Homo sapiens: one gene and its partners. The protein of the gene in region 3 interacts with the protein of the main gene of each other region in a pairwise test. Each region holds a gene or a part of one and is shown on either strand. Other genes may lie near its edges. The genes, in order: KPNA5, CCP110 and NUP50.

Region 1 (7,118 bases), on a different chromosome or scaffold from region 3:
AAATCAGAGAAATAATTAGTTATTATTTTAGATATGCAGCACTACTTTAGATTCATGATGACATCTCTGTCATGATGCTCTTTAAAACAATGAGTGAAAAACAATAAAACACTATTTCAAAAATGGTAGCATATTTGGTTGAAATACAAAATATACTAATATACATAGCACTTATATGTTAAAAACAGAAATATTTAAACATTTTATAAAGTAATCTTTTTAATGTGTTCAACATGAAAAACAGCTTCTCCCTTCACAATTGCCACATTTTAATGGATTATCAGTATAATATTTCTTCTGTTTTATAAATAAATTTTATAGGTTTTCTGTTGCAATTTTTTGCAAAGTATAACCTACAGCACAGTGATATGTATAATTTAAGGTAATAAATATTTTCACATTCTAATTTAGCATTTGCATTATTTCATGCTTCTGAAGCTTTTTTGTTTTTATTTCTGCTTCAAGATAGAGGTAGATTTAGTAGAGATTAGATGTGTAAGACTTACTGCCAAAATGCAATTATCAATAGGTTTACTGCTAATGTGCAGTTTCCAAGAATGCTTGAAAAAATTCAGAATTACTAAGTAATGCTTCACCAAAATTCTCCTTTTCAAGCTTAAATTACTAAATAATTGCATATTCAATTATTCACAAATAGATACAAAAATCCAAACAATAGAAGATATAAATACAGGCACAACAACAAAACTAAAACAACAACAAACTACAATGAAAGGTTGCATCTGAATGGAAATTTTTGTTTCATTTTGCTTTCTAAAAGTGCATCAAATTCTCTTTACTGTTCTATGTAAAAAAACAAACATTCTTACATTGGCAACAAAGAGGAGTTACCTGAAGCTACCCTTTTTAGCCATAAATTTTTTTTCCTCCAGTAAGTTAAAGTTGAAATCCATCCATTGGTGCTTCCTGCTGCTGAAATATAAACTGTTGTTGGTTTTCATCCACCTGAGGTACAATGCTGGGGTCATCTTCTTCTACACCAAAGTAATGTTCAATCAGATCAAATGCCTTCTGGTAAATTTCCTGATTTTCATGGCTTTGCAAAAACTCAATTTTATCCAGACCTGTTATACAAAGTATATATATATATATATATATATATATATATATATATATATATATATAAACAAACTGTTACTACAATTTCAGTATATGTTTAAATCAAAATAATAAGTGAACATCATCTATCACCTCACTGGCAACGGGACTATTTTAATCTAACTGTTGCACATACCGATAGCCATCACTTACGATTTATACTTCAAGAATGAGAGTATGTAGCAGTGTCATACGAAGAAGGACCATAGGCCTGGGAGTAAGATCACAGACACCACCCTGCTAGGTGTGTGATCTTGGCCAGGTAAGTTTAGTTCTTCTGTTTCTCAACTGTAAAATGGCAGTTTTAGATTAACTCCACAGGTCCTTTCTAGAGTAATTAACAAAGCCCAAAAAGGGAAAGCAACAAAACAAATTAAATGAAGAAAATAAAACACGCTGAGCCAGAGAGTATCACTATGAAATAAATGTGTAAAATTTCCAAACCCATACAATAAAAAACATATGGCTGTTGTGCGGTTTAAAAGAATTACAATCTACAATTGAAACTGAAAGGCCTCATTTTGAAAAGATGAGAAGAATCTATAGCAATCGATTTTACTGCTTATCAGAAAAAGCTCTACACGTAAGTCTGGGTAGTGCTGAAAATACATTTCATTTAATTACAGATAAACGACTTCAATCAGATTATCACAGAAAAAAAAGCAGCAAAGCAGTCCTATCTATACACAATCACAGAATAGCTCAAACCCTAGTCTGACTCGGGGTCAAAATAATGACTGTAGTAAGACAATATTCTTAAATCAGTGACTAATATCTTGTATTCATGTAATGTCTTATCCAGTGATGTTATATAATTTGAAAGAAAGACAAAGTGATATCATGGGCTTTAAGAATCAAAAATAAAAGTCTGAATCACCCATACAATGTAAGAGGACTTAATACAGAAAAGTGAATATTTAATGCAAATAAAAGAAAATCAATTTAGATTCATGCCTTATCTAAAATAAATTCCATATGATTAAATGTTTTAAGAACCTAATTTTTAAAACTTGGCAAATAAAAAAATTAATTTTCATCAAATCTCTGTGGAGGCAATGACTTTGTAAACTTTGAAAGAATAGAAAATTAGACTGAGTTATTTAAACATAAATGAACATGGTATGTTTTATTAAAATAAAAGAATGTGTTCAATGGATGATCTGAAAAAAAATAGACCGAGGAAAAAGTCATATCAAAATAAACTACTATAAAATAAAATTCAAATTTTTACCAAAAAAAAAAGTCAAATAGATAACCAGACAAAGTACAATAAATATGCAATTTGGATAAGGACACAGACTAACTCATGAAAAATACATACTACTATCTATAGGAAATAAACCAAAAAATGTACATAAAAGCAACTTGGTGTACTATTTTACATCTGCTGAGTCCACAAAATAAACAAAACAAGTATGAGGTTGTAGAATAGATTCATACAATGCCAGTGACACTGTCAGCAACAGGCCTTTGGAAAGCAAAATGAGAAGACATCAAAAGCTTAAAAAGAAGTCAGTGCCCTAAGACTCAGCAACTGTATTCCTGAAAATTTATCCCCAGATATTAATTCCATAAAAGAAATAAACATATACACAGAAAGATGCTTATTTTGGTATACATAAAGTGATAAACTGGGAACAAACTAATGGTCAACAACAGGTTATGGTTAAACTTCCATTCAAATGGCTAAAACTTGACTCAATATGTAGCATTATGGCCAGACATGGTGGCTCATATCTGTAATTCCAGCACTTTGGGAGGTTGAGGTGGCTGGATCACTTGAGGCCAGGAGCTCGAGACCAGTCTAGCCAACATGGAGAGACCCCGTCTCTACTAAAAATACAAAAATCAGCCGGGCATGGTGGCATGCACCTGTAATCCCAGCTACTCAGGAAGCTGAGGCACATGAATTGCTTGAACATGGGAGGTGGAGGTTTCAGTGAGCCAAGACCACACCACCGCACTCCAGCCTGGGAGACGGAGTAAAACTGTGTCTCAAAAAAAAAAAAAAAAAAAATTACATATTTTTATATATATATAGTATATACATAACATTATGTGGCCATTATAATAAAAATTATGTAGAAATGTAAAATTTCTCCAAAATGTTAAAAAGTAGAACATAAAACTATACATACAATACAATTAAGTCAATGTAAAGTATTTGTGCATACAGACAATGTTAAAAAAAGGTAAATAATAAAAATAAATTGTTAGGGTAATAAAATTACGGGTGACATTTTAAAACTTAAAAAAATACATACTGCTTTTACAACAAAAAAATTGTAGGGAACTGGAAGGGGAAAGTATGACAGATATAAGAACTGACTATAATTGCAAATTTTTAACTGATTGCTTACCATATGCTTCTTCAATGAGAGCACAGTATGGATTAATGCCTATTCCATTCTGCTTAGATTCTTGTTCTCCAAGACGTAAAATATTTTCAAGTCCATTTAAAGCCACTTGGACTATTTTGGAGTCCATAACAGTCAAAAGATCACAAAGTGGTTTAATGCAGCCTAAAGCTACCAAATACCTTCAGATTAATATAAAAGAGAAGAAACAGGGAAAAAAAGATTTAAAAAGACTTAAGTACTGTTTGTAACAATGACACAAAAATATTTTTCATAGTGAAATGTTACATAAGCAATTAAGAAAAAGTATTCCTATACAAATGCAAACATTACACACATTTAAATTCTCACATAGGAAACTTAAAATTTTCTTTACTCACCTATTCTCTAATTTAACATAATTAGCAATAAATGGTCTTGCAAAGACTATAAAATACAGACACAAACTGGTACTTCGGCCTGTTTTTCATGGTGCTCATCTGAGCATTAAACGTAGGTTCGAAAGGTTGTTTTTTTTTTTTTTTAAAGGCAAGCCTACACACAGACACACACACACACACACACACACACACACACACACACACACGGAGGTCATATGGGGGTAGACAGAAATGGAAAGAAAGAAGAGACATCTAAATTAAACTTGAGAAAATTTCCCATAAAAACAATCACAGCTAATGTTCTGAAACATATACTGTGTTTCAGAAGGATAGAAGGCCTGTAGGAACAAAACAGGCTCTCTTGTGAATAATGTTCATAAATAATATTCACAAAAAAATTCTTTAATTTCTGAATGCATGTCCTTTTCTAGTTATTGGCTGGTTTTCTGTACTCTATAATGTAAATGAAGTAACTGATTTGTTCACTTGGCAAAAAGTCCATATTAAGTACAAAGGTTAAAAACATACTATGAAGCCAGGCTGTGTGCCTTCAAGTCCCAATTCCACCCCTTATTAGTTGTGTGACCTTGAGCAATTACTCTGTGTCTCAGTTTCCCCATCTTAAAAATGGGAATAATAATAGTACCAACTTCAGAGAGTAGTTGTAAGAACACAATAGACATTTAATAAAAGTTTCTGTCCCTCTTAAAAAAAAAAGATGTATATACCTTCACCAGAGCACTCATTTGCCCTATACTGTACTGTAATTGGTCAAAAATATCTGTTGAATGAATAACTGCCTCATAGTTAAGAGATTACAGGAGATAAAATACATGAAAGTACCAGACACATTGCTGGTGCTCAATAACTGAAATGACTTACTTAGCACAATAACTGGCAATAGTAGGCACTCAACTAGTGGTATGGATGCATAACTTAATCTGAGATCAAGAGGTCTTTTCCCAAATATGCAAACTTAATGAAATGATAAAAGTGGTTAGAAAAATAATTATCTCAGTTTGGATACTTAATCCATACTAATAAATTAAAGCAATAATATACAGAATAGATATAACCACAAAAATTAATTGAAAAAATACAACTATTTGCAGGTGAACAAACTTGCAGCCCAAATAAAATAAAAGTAACATCAACATTAAAAAAATACAAAATAGAACAAAGGAAGGGTCTTCATTTATTACTGCTTGTATCCATGACACAAAGTGGAAATACTGATGAAAGCAAAGAGATAGAATAGAAAATAAAAGGCAGAGACAGATGCTAGCAATATACAGCTATACAAATTTGAGAGAGCAAGATAATACTACAAATGAAGGCAATAAAAGACGACAATTTCACAATAGGTAGATTTCAAAATTATGTGATTTATAAAATAGCACTGTAGTTTGACTTGTTTTATAAATTGAAAAATAAATCAAATATGCATTAGAAAATATTTTCTAAGAAGTCTAGTTTCATGGAGGGATCCTCCGAACAAGACGATTCTGTAGAAGCTTTTAGTAGAGGTGTAAGTGAAACTTTGCTATGGGAGATAAAAAAGAGTGAAAGTACATGATAAAAGATTCAGGAATCAATACTGATAATAAAAATTATGATGATTACAAATAATAACAGTAGCTATTCTTAATTATCTATTAGTTATTAATAATATGTTTAGGCACTGTGCTGACACTTCAAAGACATAAATTTCACTTAACTATCAAGATACAGTCCCTCGGTTTCATCGGAGATTGGTTCCAAGACACCCTTCCTCTCAATACCAAAATCCACAGATGCTCAATTCCTTTATATAAAATGGCATAGTATTTGCATACAACCTATGCATATCTTTCCAAGTATTTGAAATTATCTTTAGATTACTTATAATACCTAAAACAATGTAATTGCTATGATGTTACTAATTGTTGTATTGTGTTTTTAAATTTGCATTATTTTGTAGTGTTGTACTGGCATTTTTTACTGTCTTTTTCTTTTTTAATATTTTTGACCTGCAGGTGGTTGAATCCACAGATGCAAAACCCAAGGATATGGAAGGCTGACTTACACTGCCATAACTATTCATTACTGGAACTCATTTTTTAAAATGAAGAAACTAGATTAGAGGGGTTAAATGACTTTGTCAAGACCACACAACTTTTACTGAAGGAGCAGGATTTGAAATCAGGCTGACTTAAAAGCCCATGCACCTATTATTTACATTGTCAGCAGAATAAATAAATTTAAAAAGCCTAGACTCAAAAAGCTAATATAAAAAAAAGGTAACTAGTATAGAAAAATAAAAGATACTATCCATAGGCAAGGCTAACAATCAATGAGGACCAGAACATCACCATATAAACAATGTCTATTTCAATTTTATTTAAAGTAAGTGGATATTCAAATTTATTAGCCATTTCTATATAATAAAGCTATATTTTTGTGATTAAAAAATATTTAATGCCCATGACAGTGTACTCTGCAAATTAACATAGACCGTTCCCGTTTGGATTTTTTAATCTCTGATTTTTCTTAAGCAGCCTATCAAGGAGAATGATGTTAATTACACGTTAAATGGGGAAAAAAAAATTGTGAATGAGTAACTGATATAATACATGCTGTCATTTCATATTATCAAACTGACTTAGAAATAATATTTTAGTTCCATCAGTAAATTAAAATATGTTTTATTTCAACTTTTGTCTCATTTACATGTAAAAAACAATTAAGAAGTTTATATCATACCTTATTTGCTCTGGAGTACCTCCTGATGTTGCATTAGTTATAGCCCAAGCTGCTTCTTTTCTGGTACGAAACTCTGCTTTCTGAAGAATCTCAATCAAAACAGGAAAAATATTTGCATCTATAACAGCCTGAGAGGGGGAAAAATATATAATCAGTACAAATACTGTTTCTAAAATATTACCAGTAAAAAAAATCTTGAAACTCAATGGCTTCAAAATGTCAAGGTTTTTGGAACCTTGACATTAAAATAAATTTTTAATTTCTATTCTGTCAGCAAACTTTTCAAATATTTTTCTTTTTACATAGGAAATTAGCTTTTTAAAGACTGGAGAATAGCAAAATATAAATTTTAGAGATGATAAAGCACAAGCCATGTGACTGATCAAAATGGATAAGTAATCACTGACACAAGAAGCTTGATAGAACCCTAATAAATCATTAAAAGCTTTGAGAGGAAGATTATTGCATAACTTATTTAAAACTAATGCAAAAAAATATCTTTCTAAAGACAAACCATTAT
Region 2 (6,085 bases), on a different chromosome or scaffold from region 3:
CGTTGAAAGAAAATGGGAAAAAATGGAATTTAACCTATTAAATTAATTTTTCATTTAATTTGTCAACAGAGTCCTTCAGCCAAACCAAGGACAGAATGCACCTGTTCATAGGCTACTTAGTAGACAAGGGTAAGAATGCCACACACGGGTATTGAAAACTACGGAAACCAAGATTAGATTTGAGAGGGAAAAATAAATCTAGTGTTCTTTATGTAAAGGATAATGGTTTTTCAATGGGATTTTTTTTCTTTATAGCATTGGGAAAGATATTTTAAAGTTTTGTCTTCAAATGTAACCCTCTTGGTGTACTGTTGTGTATTCTAATTACTGTCTTAAGTTGGGATGTTTTTACTTTTCATTTCATACCATTTTACTCATAAAGTATTTTAAATATCCATATAGTAAATTCAGCATCACCGAAGTGATTCTCCAACAGAGTATGACTCGTGCTTATAGTCTCCTGCTGAAGCCAGAGTTTAGCTTTCCTTACTGTGCGCATGCATGAGACTTCAGTTCTTTTCAAGCTTATTTGTGCTTTGGACAGTTGATGCAATGTGATTGCTTTCTTTGAATTTTGAACATTTAGACCTTAATGCCAGTGACTTATTAATTTTTTTATATTCAATTAGAACCCCTAAGACATCAGTGAAGGGGGTTGTGCAAAATAGACAGAAGCCTTCACAGAGCAGAGTGCCTAACAGAGTGCCTGTTTCAGGTTTGTAGAAAATAAATTCCTGAAGCCCATTCAATAGAAGGAAGTGCACAAGCTGCCCCATAACTCAGGCCATAGAAGTGGAATAGATTGTCTTTCCTTGCCACCATAATTTTGGCATATTCACAGTCATCTTATTAGTGTTCTTTGGTCTTAGCATTGTATGGCAGTCAGGAAGTCTTAGTAAAAGTGTGATTCCAGTCTTCATTTCTATAATATTTCTGTGGAAAGCACCTTGTATTTTTCATTCTGAAAAAATTGTAGAATTTGCCATGCTTAATTCAGAAAACCTTTTTATTTAATGAATAAAAGATAACGATCATCTCTGGTGCTAAGTCTGTGCATTGTCTGTTCAGCTTGGGGAAGTGTATCTGCACATAAGGGGATAAACTTTCTCCCTCAGACTATAAGATCACATGTGAATATGCCAGTGGGAGGAGGGCTTCATATTTTGCTCAGTCCAAAGCTTGAGCTAAATCTCTCCTTATGTTCATTATTTGAGGATTAAGAGCTAAACTAAAAACTGTATTTTAAAATTCTGTTTATGGTGGCAAGAAGACAAACTCATTCTTGAGCAAATTCAAAGCTCTTAACCAAATGCTTTAATATTTTTTAGGTATCTTTGTTAAGACACTTTGATTAAGCTCACTTAAAAATTATGTGATCCATTTAAAAATACTTTCCAAATGTTGTGCTTTAACTATACTGCTTTCTAGACATTTACAACAAACCTAAATTAATCACCAGGCATTGAAGATTAAACCTTTAATCAATTTTAATCTTTCCATTAATATACAATTAGGCAAATTTTAGAGCTTTATTACTAAGTGATTTCCTTCAAATTAGGAGGGAACAAGCTATTGGTCGTAACTTTGAAATGATGGCTGACCTTTTGTATGTATGTAGTGAAGGTAATTCATAGTGTCACACATATATAGGATAATTTAAAAGATCATCTTTGGAAATCATTGTGAGTGACAGTTAATGGAATTGTCTTAAAGGATTACATAGCTGAAGATACTGTTTACTCCAGAGGCAGTCAGAATAAGCTAGTTTGAAAGATAACCATTTGAAAGGACTCAGACCAAACACCAAACCTGTGGAATTTTAAGACATTTTCTGTTTTTCTCATGTTAGTATTCTATATTGCACTGAAACTTAGCAAGTTGGAAAATCATTGAGGAATTAGTATTGTTTTGCCTGATACCAATTTGCCACAGTGACTACTCTCCATGTTCTTTTCTCATGCATTTCATCTCCACTATTTGTCACTTGTGAACTTATAAGCAAAATAGCAAGTACTGTTTTTATTCAGCAATACTCAACAGTATAAAGGATGTATAGTCAGTCACTGAAGTTAGTAACATACAATGAAGTTCATTATTTTGAACTATTGAGGTTAAATTGCATTGCAACATACTTATTAATACAAATGAACTTAACCCTTGAATTAATATGTATCTAAACAAGTACAAAAGTCTGTTGCTGTTGTTTTCTAAAGATTTACTTATACATGAGTGCATATTTAGACAATTGAAAGAAACTAAATAATTGTGTTCTTTTTTTTTTTTTGAGACAGAGTCTTGTTCTGTTGCCCAGGCTGGAGTGCATTGGTGTGATCTTGGCTCACTGCAATCTCCACCTCCTGGGTTCAAGCCATTCTTCTGCCTGAGCCTCCCAAGTAGCTGGAATTACAGGCGCGTGCCACCATGCCCAGCTAATTTATTGTATTTTTAGTAGAGATGGGGTTTTACCATATTGGCCAGGCTAGTCTCGAACGCCTGACCTCAGGTGATCCGCCCACCTCGGCTTCCCAGAGCTCTGGGATTACAGGTGTAAGCCACCGCGTCCAGCCAGAATTGTATTCTTTTATATAAACTGAGAGTTTGGGATATTGGCTGGTTAAAATGCTAACTATGAATCTGAACACAGGAACTCACTGTCGCTCTTGAAAAGATTACTCTTTCCTGCTTAGAGTTTTAATGGTCTGAATTATGTTTTAAACAAATTTGAAATTATGTTCTGATTTGCTCTAAATGGAGGCAAATCCTTTGTTAAGCAATTTATAGAAAACTAACTTTTCTTATGATAGAATATCATACTCTTAGACTGAAGTAGAATTCTAAAATGTTAAAGTATGCTGCAAAGCATTTAGTTATTTATAGTTTTACAAACCTAAATTGCAATCTCTGATGTTATCGTAAGTGATCTTTGACTTACGGTTTTAAAACACATTTCTTCATTTGATGTTTTGTGCTTGACTAGAGTTTATATAGTGAAATTCAGAAACCACTAATCAAAGCAGAGTAGGAGGTGGTCATGCAAAATGGTTAAGTAAAATAACACATCAGGTGGACTTGGGTTATCAGAGTTCTTCCTTCTAGCTCTGTTCCTTAGGCAACTGCTCTCCTATGCCTCAGTTTTATTATCCTTAAAATGGTCATAACAATTTCTACCTCAGGATGATTCATATAAGGATTAAATATGATAATGTATATTGCCTAGCTCAGTGTTTGTTCCAGAGTAAAAACTCATTAAATGGTATCATTATAGAAAACCTCCCATTGAGAAGTAATACTGGTTTTGCTCTATTTTTAGGAGTATATGCAGGAAAAATCCAAAGAAAGCGGCCAAATGTTGCGACAATTTAAGAAGACAACATTCATTAGGATAAAATGGGGGGAAGGATTATTATTCATGTTATTTTCCCTGCCCAAGACTTTATTTAACCCTGGACTCCGTTTACACAGACAAAGTGACATCAGAAGGCTGAGCACTTATCTGGATCATTTGGTCAGTTTGGTAATTCCTGCTCCACACCCCTATTTTCCTCTTAATAATACGTTTGGGTGAAGACAAATTAGTGTTTAGTAATTGCATCATCTCTGTGCTTACCTATACAAACATAAGTTTATTTTATATGCCCAGATGTCTACAGAGACCCTTTTTGTAAATGTCAAGGACATTTGGATTTACTTTTACAGAATATTGAAAAGATAAGACAAATTATAAATAAGTTCTAAAACATAAATTTAATTCATCTCTGCATAGTGATTTTTGAATTTGATTCAAAGGGAAATTATTGCAGAAGAATGCCTTTCCCTCATTTTATAACTTTAAAAACTTGGATTAACCACTCAATGTCCACTTTCTTTGACTTACAGTATAACCATGTAGCCAATTGTGGCCCACTAAAATCTACAGAAGTTAATGTGGGTCACCATTTTGGTCAGAAGCATACATTCCTGTCAGACAACTAGTTGTCTGACAGAAATGTTAGGCTTCATGTATGTTACCCCAGTACTGTTAGAAACATTTGTACTAGGTTATAAGATCTTTCTGTGACAGGTAACAAATTTGGGGAAGACAGCACAATCTTCTTGAATGTAGCTCTTGGGAATGCATTATTACATCCATTTCTGTAACATAATAATATGTTGCATGCAGTTATATTTTCTATTTAGTCTGTATATTTTGTTCTTCATAGTCTGTTTTTTCTAGCATGCTTGATTTAGGAGAGAATAAAGGGCTATATAATAATAAATCCAGATTTCCGGATAAGAATATTGCCTGGTTAAAATTCTGCATTGCTTAAAGACACCCATGTTTAAGATTTTTCATCACTAACATATCCATTAAAAGTATCAACTGGCCAGGCAGGGTGGCTCACGCCTGTACTCCCAGCATTTTGTGAGGCCAAGGTGGGTGGATCACCTGAGGTCAGGAGTTTGAGACCAGCCTGACCAAACATGGCGAAACCCCATCTGTACTGAAAATACAAAAATTAGGCATGGTGGTGCATGCCTGTAGTTCCAGCTACTTGGGAGGCTGAGACAGGCGAATTGCTTGAACCTGGGAGGCAGAGGTTGCAGTGAGCTGAGACTGTGCCATTGCACTCCAGTCGGGTTAACAGAGCAAGACACTGTCTCAAAAAAAAAAAAAAAAAAAAGTATCAACCAACAAATGTTACCAAGATAACGTGACTTCATGAGGGAGAATGTCACTATTAATTTATCATACCATTTCCAAAAAGGGCTTTGTGCTTTTCACATAAAATTGAGACAGTGTATATTTAATCTAATTTAAATTTTAAAGAGATACTGGTATTTTGAAAATGCAACCTATATATATTCTTAATATCCTTTTAAGAATATGGAGATGAAGATTGTTTTCTCCAATTTTCTGTGCCATTTTAAATTTAACTTTGACATCCAGCTATAGACAGAAATAATAAGCCACCCTGGGTGTAAACTTGATTTTCTTTATTGAGATGTATCATGTATTGAATGAGTGAACCAGAAAATTAGAAGATGGTCAAAAAAAGTCCAAGTTACCAATTTTTTAAAATTTATAGGCAAAGTATCAAATTGTCTTCTTAATATGATAAACTGTGCTTTATCATTCTGAAAACTCAGGATACAGCTTATTCATAGCATTGTGGGTCTCTCCAGTAAGAAAGATGCTAAAAGTTTTGTGCACTTTTTGTGTGTGTAATGCAAATTAGTTAAAACAAATAGTTTTGGAGAAAGTTAAAACTAGCTTTAGAGTAAGGATGAGAAACTTGAGTGTTTTTAATTTAAAGATAAAAGCCTGTGTTTTACACATTCTTTTTTGGTGTTCATAGCTTCTTCTCATACAGGTGCCAGACACTGTTTGTGCTTTTGATGGATTTTTATTTATATACTTTTTTTGCTTATTTTTACTTTGAGTGGAATGTTCATTAATGTAAATTGTATTTATTTTTATACTTTTATTTTCACTAGTTTTGCTTCTAGGCAAAAAGCAAAATAAACTTTTCATCTTAAAGAAAATCTAGTTTGATTGTTTTTATTTACCAGGGGAAGGACTATTAAGAAATAGGCCGGGCATGGTGGCTCATGCCTGTAATTCTAGCACTTTGGGAGGCCAAGGTGGGTGGATCATGAGATCAGGAGTTTGAGATCAGCCTGGCTAACATGGTGAAACCCCGTCTCTACTAAAAATACAAAATTAGCTGGGCGTAGTGGTGCATGCCTGTAGTTCCAGCTACTTGGGAGGCTGAAGCAGGAGAATCGCCTGAGCCTGGGATGGGGAGGCTATAGTGAGCCGAGATTGTGCCACTGCACTGCAGCCTGGGTGACAGAGCAAGACTCCATCTCAAAACAAAACAAAAAAGAAACCGATATTAGCCAGGCATGGTGGTTCACATCTGTAGTCCTAGGTACGCTGGAGGCTGAGGCAGGAGGATCACTTGAACCCAGGAGTTACAGGTGGCAGTGAGCTATAATCGCACCACTGCACTCCAGCCTGAATGAGACTTTGTCTCCAAAACAAAAAAGAAAAAAGAAACAGATATTGAAAAGTATTAGGCCAAAACAAATATTGTATATAATC
Region 3 (7,118 bases):
AAACTAATACAAGCTGAGATTATATTGTCTGACAATTCAAGTATTTTAGTTTTAGAAAACAATTTCCTATTTAAAGTAAAAAGCAAACAATTTATCCATCTGATTGCTAAGAAGTTTTACATCTCCATTACAATTGTGTCTGCATCAAACGGAGAGTCCTTCGTCCTCAGTATGATTGTTACTGGCTGAGAACATACGGTGACCTGTGTTCTGAGTGCCTGCTTGGAAAAGACCTCCCTGTCATCTGCCATACTACGGGACAAATCAGTATCTACTCAAATTCCCACTTCCAGAATGAGAGGACTCATCAGGGGTTTAGGAGTTTGCAAAGCCTTCAAAATGTATCGTGCTTGAATTTTGACTCTTCTGAAATAGAATAACTGACAAATGCTCAAAAAACAAACTTGTTTAACTTTTACTGAAAAGGCTCTCAGTGAAAACTTGTTTTGAACTCTACTAGTAAGGTAGAATATTAGTTTTTCTTCCCCTCCACACCAGAAAAGGCAGTTTTCTCTTTTTTTTTTTTTTGGCATGCAGCATATATAAAATGTGATCTAGAATTGAAATTGTAAAACAGAATAATCCTCTTAAAGAAAATCAGCCTATGAACAGTCAGACTTGTCCTTCCATGGAAAACATAATCTAAACTTCTTTAAAAACTGGCCATATTTTTTCAGTCTGTAATTCGAATAATGAAGATGGCATAACAAATTTTTTTGCTTACTAGGAATGCGCAAAAGGATGAGATGGATACACAGGTTTTAAAAAAAAAAAAAAAAAGGCCACTGGGATATTTAGTATTTGTCCAGATGCAAAACAATTTCAGAATAACAAAATACACACCTTGCTTTAGGCCACGTATATGATACACTTCATAGATTCTCAAACAAAAGATGAAAATTTCAGTCCACATTAAACATTTTAAAGCATAACTTCTAATATTTTGTTAAAAATAAGTCAAACTAAACGCATAAATCAGAATTACCTGTTAACATAGTGGGGAAAGTAGGGAAGCCCTCCAGGGGCCCCGTGCCCCAAGTAAAAGACAAGGAGTTAAATTTTACAATGAAATCCACGTATACTCAGGCTCTTTACACTAATAATCAAAGTGGAGACCAACCAGTTCCTAAAGCATAAAAGAGTGATTTTAAGAAAATATCACATTTTGAGTTACGGTATATTCATCACATTTTTCCCTGTAATTTTCACTTTAACAGTGATAGTCTTAGCAGCAAAAATTTGCTGGGAATGTTAGGAAAAAAGGAAGCCACACATACCTACTAATTTAAAAATATATAAACTATTTTTTACAGAAGGGCAGGTTTAAAAGAAAATCCAATCATGATCTTTTCATGCCATTTTTTGTCAACTTTCCATACACACGCAGACGCTAACAAAGTACTGTGTCATATACACTGAAGTGTCCTGAAGATGCCTGTGAGCTGCTGATTCCAGCTGGTACCAGGGAAGCATGTGTGGCTAAGTTGCAACAAACTTAAATTTGTTCCCCTTAGTTCTTCATCTTTTTAAAAGCTGAATAAACTTAATGTCAATCGGGTGGGGCCGGTATTAACAGCATCAACCGCTTGCTTACTATGAATCATCCGCAACAGAAACCCACGTGCATTCTCCATTCTTAAAAAGTCAGTGTAAAACTAACGGCCACTTCCTCCCTAGGTGCCTACTATCGCTATGTCTGACAGCATCTGTAACAGGACAAGCTCACCTCTCTCTACACGGATTCATCCAAAGCCACACACTAGGCCAAATTCTCCCAGTGGAATCAAAACACTGGAAGTAGAGCAAGAACCTCATGCCAACATTGGCCCAATCACACCTCAGTGACTTAGGAGTTCATCATATTTGATCATAAAATTGCTCCCGGCGCCAAACCTTACACCTAAAGACTGTAGTTTTAAAAAGCCACTGTACCGTCCACAATTATTCTGACCACTCTTTTCTAAATGGAGAATGTGCTACGCACTGAAGATCAGAACACACACGCGGGAGCCCTTGGGCACTGACCCTGAGCCTGTACACAAGATCAGCTGGTACTAGTCTCAAATGATTCATGAGGACTCAGTGGAAATTTAAACATTCAATTCTGTGTATCATTCATGTGCCCAGAGTCTTCAAAGAATGCTCGTGTTAGTTACCTGACACCTCTGGAGAAGTGACAGGGATATTCGTGTGAATAACCATGGCTCCCTTCCAGACAGACATATGGAATCTTACTCTTAAAAAAGTAAAGATATTTCAGATATCAAATGTATTATAATATACTGCGGTCTAAAGTTAAAGGCAAAGTTTACACACGATTTTCTCTTCCATGACTTTATTACATGTTTCCTAGTGAATTCACACGGCTCGTGTGTCAAAGCTCCCAGGCACGTCACTTGGTCACAGTTTTCATGTGCGTGGGGTTGATCATGGTACAAATGCCTATGCGCATCTTTTTCTCGGATGGTCTCATTTGACTTTCATTTCGTAAGGGTTCACTCTCCATGGTGTAGATGATAAGCTACCACATTTGTGCTTTTAAACCCATTCCTGGCAATCCCCCTTTATCTTCATTTTGTCTTTAGGGGGATAAAGAAGTAACACTACCTCATGAATAGAAACTATGAAGCCAAAAAACTCCTTCACAAGCTGTTCATTTCTTTTTAGAATGAAAATGCAGGTCCTGAATTCTCGTGAAGCAGCCCACAGGGTTACAGGCCAATGATTCGAACGCTGAGGTGAACACTTAGTACTCGCATTTGAGCTTCAAAGTAAAAATAAAGCAGAGGACAAACGCCTGTCACAGCGTGGCAGCCCGGTTCATTTGGTAACAGAACAAGTCTCACACGTCGGCTGAGCCCACCGGAGAGAAGCACACAGGCCAGCTTCCTTCTGAACACAGCCAGGCACCTGTTCAAAAGCCTCTCTCGTGGTGGCGGTGGACCCCAAAACCCACGGGTTGGAAGAGCCTTTGGGAAAGCAAATTGATACCCTGATTGCAGTCCTTGAAGAAATCACTTAGGGTTAGTTTAATAAACGAACATTAAAAAATCTTCCAAAAATTGCATTCAAATGTATTTTACACTTTAGGCAGTTCTTAAGAAGGGAGAGTGCAGTTTCTTGACACTTAACATTTAAAGGTTTTATTGGCCACATTAATCTTCCTCACAAAAGTTTTAAGTTATCTATAAGTTCTTAGAATGTCAAAGAAGAGAAGAAAAACTGACTAACTTTAAGGGGCGGTGGAAGCAGCAGCAACTTGGCAATAATTCTGCAGCCGACTTTGCGTGTTCAGGCATCCTTTTTCTCCAGTAAAATTTTGTGCAACTCGTCTGCATCCTCGCTGGTTTTTACCCGAATCAACATGGTGACTGGCATGGTGGCATTCTTCTCGTCAATTGGTGGATTTGGAACACAGACGATAAGAACGTTATTCTTCCCTGTTCGCGTACATGGCATATTGGGTGGAATCAGAACGTTCAGCAATATGTTGCCTGCATTCAAACAAACAAAACCCATCAAAATTATAGAAGCTATAGCTCCACCAAAGGAGTCTGTAATATGCTAAACATTAAATGCTGAAATAACTTAATACATCTAAGACAGGGAGCCAACAGGACAGCACAAAATCAGGACTGGTTCCCTGAGAACTGGGAGGCCTCGGGGAGCACTTGCCCTCACTGTGAGGAGTGGCCTTCCGTCCTCCCTCCAGCCCGGGTCTCTGCACCCACACAGCGTTTCTCTCAGAGCCAGCAGCCTCGCTCAGAACCGTCAGCCCTCTCAACACTGTCCGTCTTTGCACTGAAGGAAGAACACGGTGGCACAACCCAGTGTCTTCACTGCGCCACACGGACAAAGGACACCTCTGTCACAGGCCGGCACAGCTCCCTGGGCAAAAGTGACACGACCATGTTATTACTCCCTAGTCAAGCCCACGGGAAAGAAAAATGCCTCCCTGGAGTTTCTGCAACACAGCCCCCTGTTCTCTACCACTACTGCCCGCTCCACCGCAGGCCTGCCCCGTCTTCCTCCTCCTCCGGGCACTAGGATCCTTGCAGTGGACTCTTTTCAGGTTAAAACTGAGGATGGACAGCAAGCAGTTAGTCATTACTTGCTATATAAAAAGGATTCCTTTAAAAGGTTAATTTCCCTTGGGTGTTCATTAAATGGTCTAATCTCTAGCTTCTTAGTCACATTTCTAACACAAAGGAAAATGAAAAATCATTTTGTTTACAGCTTCTAACACATTTATGTTTCCTTACACACTATTATCCTGGGACTCAAAACTATAAATAAGTAAATACAGGATGAATTTGGCCTGAATGCGCTCTGTTTAAAAACATATTAATAACCTTGAGTCAGCAGGGTAAACGCTTTTATATACTATGTGATGATGATTTTGTGCTAACTGAAAAAAGGTACCCACCTAAATTGGTGTCTGCCCGCACCAAAAGCTGTGTCTTCTGATTTGCTGTAGGTTTTAAATGCAGAGTACCTATGCCTTTCTCTTTAAACTCATTGTCTTTCTTGTAAAACAGTTTACACCTATGGAGAAAAATAATAGGGACCATCAAGCATTCAAGGACGAATCAAGTCACACAGTTTTCTAACAACCACTCTTCACACTTGTGTGGAAAATCTCTATTAAATGAGTACAGGAAGCTTCAGGATAAATCTTTAATTGATCCAAACAGAGCCTGAGCAAAAACCAGAATAAGAAAATCTGCTTAGAGATTTTAAAACTCCTCCCCATTTTTTCAAATTAAACAGTGGGCCCCATGAAACTTTTTATAACACTTTCTGAAACTGTGTTCTCAAGTCAGTCAAAATCAGGGCTCAACACCAACCCCCCCCCCCCCCCGCCCCCAACCCCTGCCATTCTGCTCCTTTGGCCCTGAGCTCAAGATCGCCGATCTGGTCCTCTAAAGACAGGAACAAATAAAGGACAAAGACCCTGTCCTATCTCGCCCACCTCTCCCTCCTTTTTTTTTTGTGGCCTATTTCTTATTTTAAAAATTCTCCTCGACCAGGTGCGGTGGCTCACGCCTGTATCCCAGCACTTTGGGAGGCCGAGGCAGGCAGATCATGAGGTCAGGAGATTGAGACCATCCTGGCTAACACGGTGAAACCCCGTCTCTACTAAAAATACAAAAAATTAGCTGAGCGTGGTGGCGGGCACCTGTAGTCCCAGCTACTCGGGAGGCTGAGGCAGGAGAATGGCATGAACCTGGGAGGCGGAGCTTGCAGTGAGCCGAGATTGTGCCACTGCACTCCAGCCTGGGTGACAGAAAGAGACTCCGTCTCAAAAAAAAAAAAAAAAAAACAAACCTCAAGGCTCTTTCAGTTTTTGATTGCACAACATTTTTAAATAAATTTGGAAAACATTCTTGGGTAGGGTCTAACTAATAACAAAGTAATCAAATATCTTCCCAGCCTCCTGTGCTATGCATCTCCTGAGGTTATTAATACAAAACCATGGCTCATGTATTGATTTATGTATTTCTTTTGAGACAGTCTTACTCTGTGGCCCAGGCTGGAGTGCAGTGGCATGATCTTGGCTCACTGCAACCTCTGCTTCTCAGGGTTCAAGCAATTCTCATGCCTCAGCCTCCCAAACAGCTGGGATTACAGGCGTGCGCCACCACATTAGGCTAATTTTCATATTTTTAGTAGAGACGGGATTTCACCATGTTGGCCAGGTTTGTCTGGAACTCCTGACCTCAGGTGATCTGCCTGTCTCAGCCTCCCAAAGTGCTGGGATTACAGGCATGAGCCACCATGCCTGGCCTCATTTGATTCTAATTAAAAAAAAAAAAAATCTTAAAGTTGGGTCACTCCTTTATGTCATGTGAGTAATGAAATTTAAACACAGAAGAAATTGTTGGCCTCTTTTAAAAGTTCTTGAAACTAACACCTGGGAATCCCACAGGATGTGGTGACCTGTTCATGGAAAACTGCTGGCTCATTATTCGGAAATTTTTGCATTACAAAAACACATCTTTGAAAGCTTCTGAAATGGCACAGATGTTTTTTCAGCAAATATCTTTGTAAAAACTAATCTCATTTAATTGAAAGGAAGATGAAAGTTTTTATAAGTCCTCAACAGGAAGGGACGGTTACTGTGCTTAACTTTTTGACTATGAGAAAATCCAGAAAGGCCAACCAAGTCTCCAGGAAGGGATGAGAGATGCCTTCTGAGGCCAAACCTGAAATCACTGACTGACTCTGCGATTTCTTTGTTGGGGAGGAGGAAGGGGAGGGAGAAAGACACAGGGAGAGAAGACGGGATGGAATGGGATGGGATGGGATGGGGTTGGGAAGATCATGGAAGATCCTGTCTCTAAAGCACTTTAAAAGAGCTAAAGTGACAGAAAAGAGTGAGACCTGCCCACCAGGACATTTCTAGAACTGGATTTTTAAATAAACTGGCCAAGAATTCTTTCCTGTTCCACTTGAGAGCAGGCAAAGCTTGACCCCGAGACTGGAAGCTCAGTCAAGTGCCGTGAGGACATTCTCCAGCCTGAAGCATGCCACCATGCCTGCAAAACACATGCGCCAGCAGGTTGTGGGGATTCTTACTTTTTGGAGTAAAAAGCATCTTCTTCTTTTACTTCGGTAACTACTACTTTGGGTGGCTCATCATTCTCTTCTTCATCTCCACCTTTTATAAAAATGACAATAATTCAGTAAGATTCCAATCCAGAGCTTAAAGAAGTGACTGAAGTTTTGTTACGTAACACCCTAAACCTCCACCGGAGCACTCCATGTAAACTGACAGACTAAAATGCACACTTAATGGGGGGGGGGGGGGATGCCAGAAGGGAGTACCTGCAGGATTTTAACTATTTTGTGAAAAATAAGAATCCCTTTTAATGGGAACATACCTCTTAATTCTAAAATAACTTCCAATATATAGAAAACCTTAAAATGGAAAAATCTCCATGCTTATGACAGAAAAAAAAAATCAACACTCTATATGCAAATTACCCACTGGAAAATTCCATCTCGGATGAGTTTTTAACACCTTCACCCCTGAATATTCCTGTGACTACATCTACAAGTATCAGTAATAGCCAAAGATAGAAAAATACTTTTTTTTTTTTTAACAGGGGACAAGT

What was found.
Region 1: the proteins of NUP50 (region 3) and KPNA5 interact in binary tests that used the Homo sapiens proteins (3 or more experiments, as listed by UniProt).
Region 2: the proteins of NUP50 (region 3) and CCP110 interact in binary tests that used the Homo sapiens proteins (3 or more experiments, as listed by UniProt).

Annotation. Positions count from the first base shown.
Region 1 is NC_000006.12:116,726,103-116,733,220, reverse strand, and holds part of KPNA5 (importin subunit alpha-6), read right to left. Parts: intron 6,727-7,118; coding exon 6,599-6,726; intron 3,659-6,598; coding exon 3,480-3,658; intron 1,086-3,479; coding exon 898-1,085; 3' UTR 1-897. UniProt on the Homo sapiens protein: Functions in nuclear protein import as an adapter protein for nuclear receptor KPNB1. Binds specifically and directly to substrates containing either a simple or bipartite NLS motif.
Region 2 is NC_000016.10:19,547,886-19,553,970, forward strand, and holds the end of CCP110 (centriolar coiled-coil protein of 110 kDa), read left to right. Parts: intron 1-69; coding exon 70-129; intron 130-629; coding exon of another isoform or gene 630-715; intron 716-3,310; coding exon 3,311-3,386; 3' UTR 3,387-5,523; downstream 5,524-6,085.
Region 3 is NC_000022.11:45,180,829-45,187,946, reverse strand, and holds part of NUP50 (nuclear pore complex protein Nup50), read right to left. Parts: intron 6,662-7,118; coding exon 6,580-6,661; intron 4,546-6,579; coding exon 4,427-4,545; intron 3,495-4,426; coding exon 3,292-3,494; 3' UTR 1-3,291. UniProt on the Homo sapiens protein: Component of the nuclear pore complex that has a direct role in nuclear protein import. Actively displaces NLSs from importin-alpha, and facilitates disassembly of the importin-alpha:beta-cargo complex and importin recycling.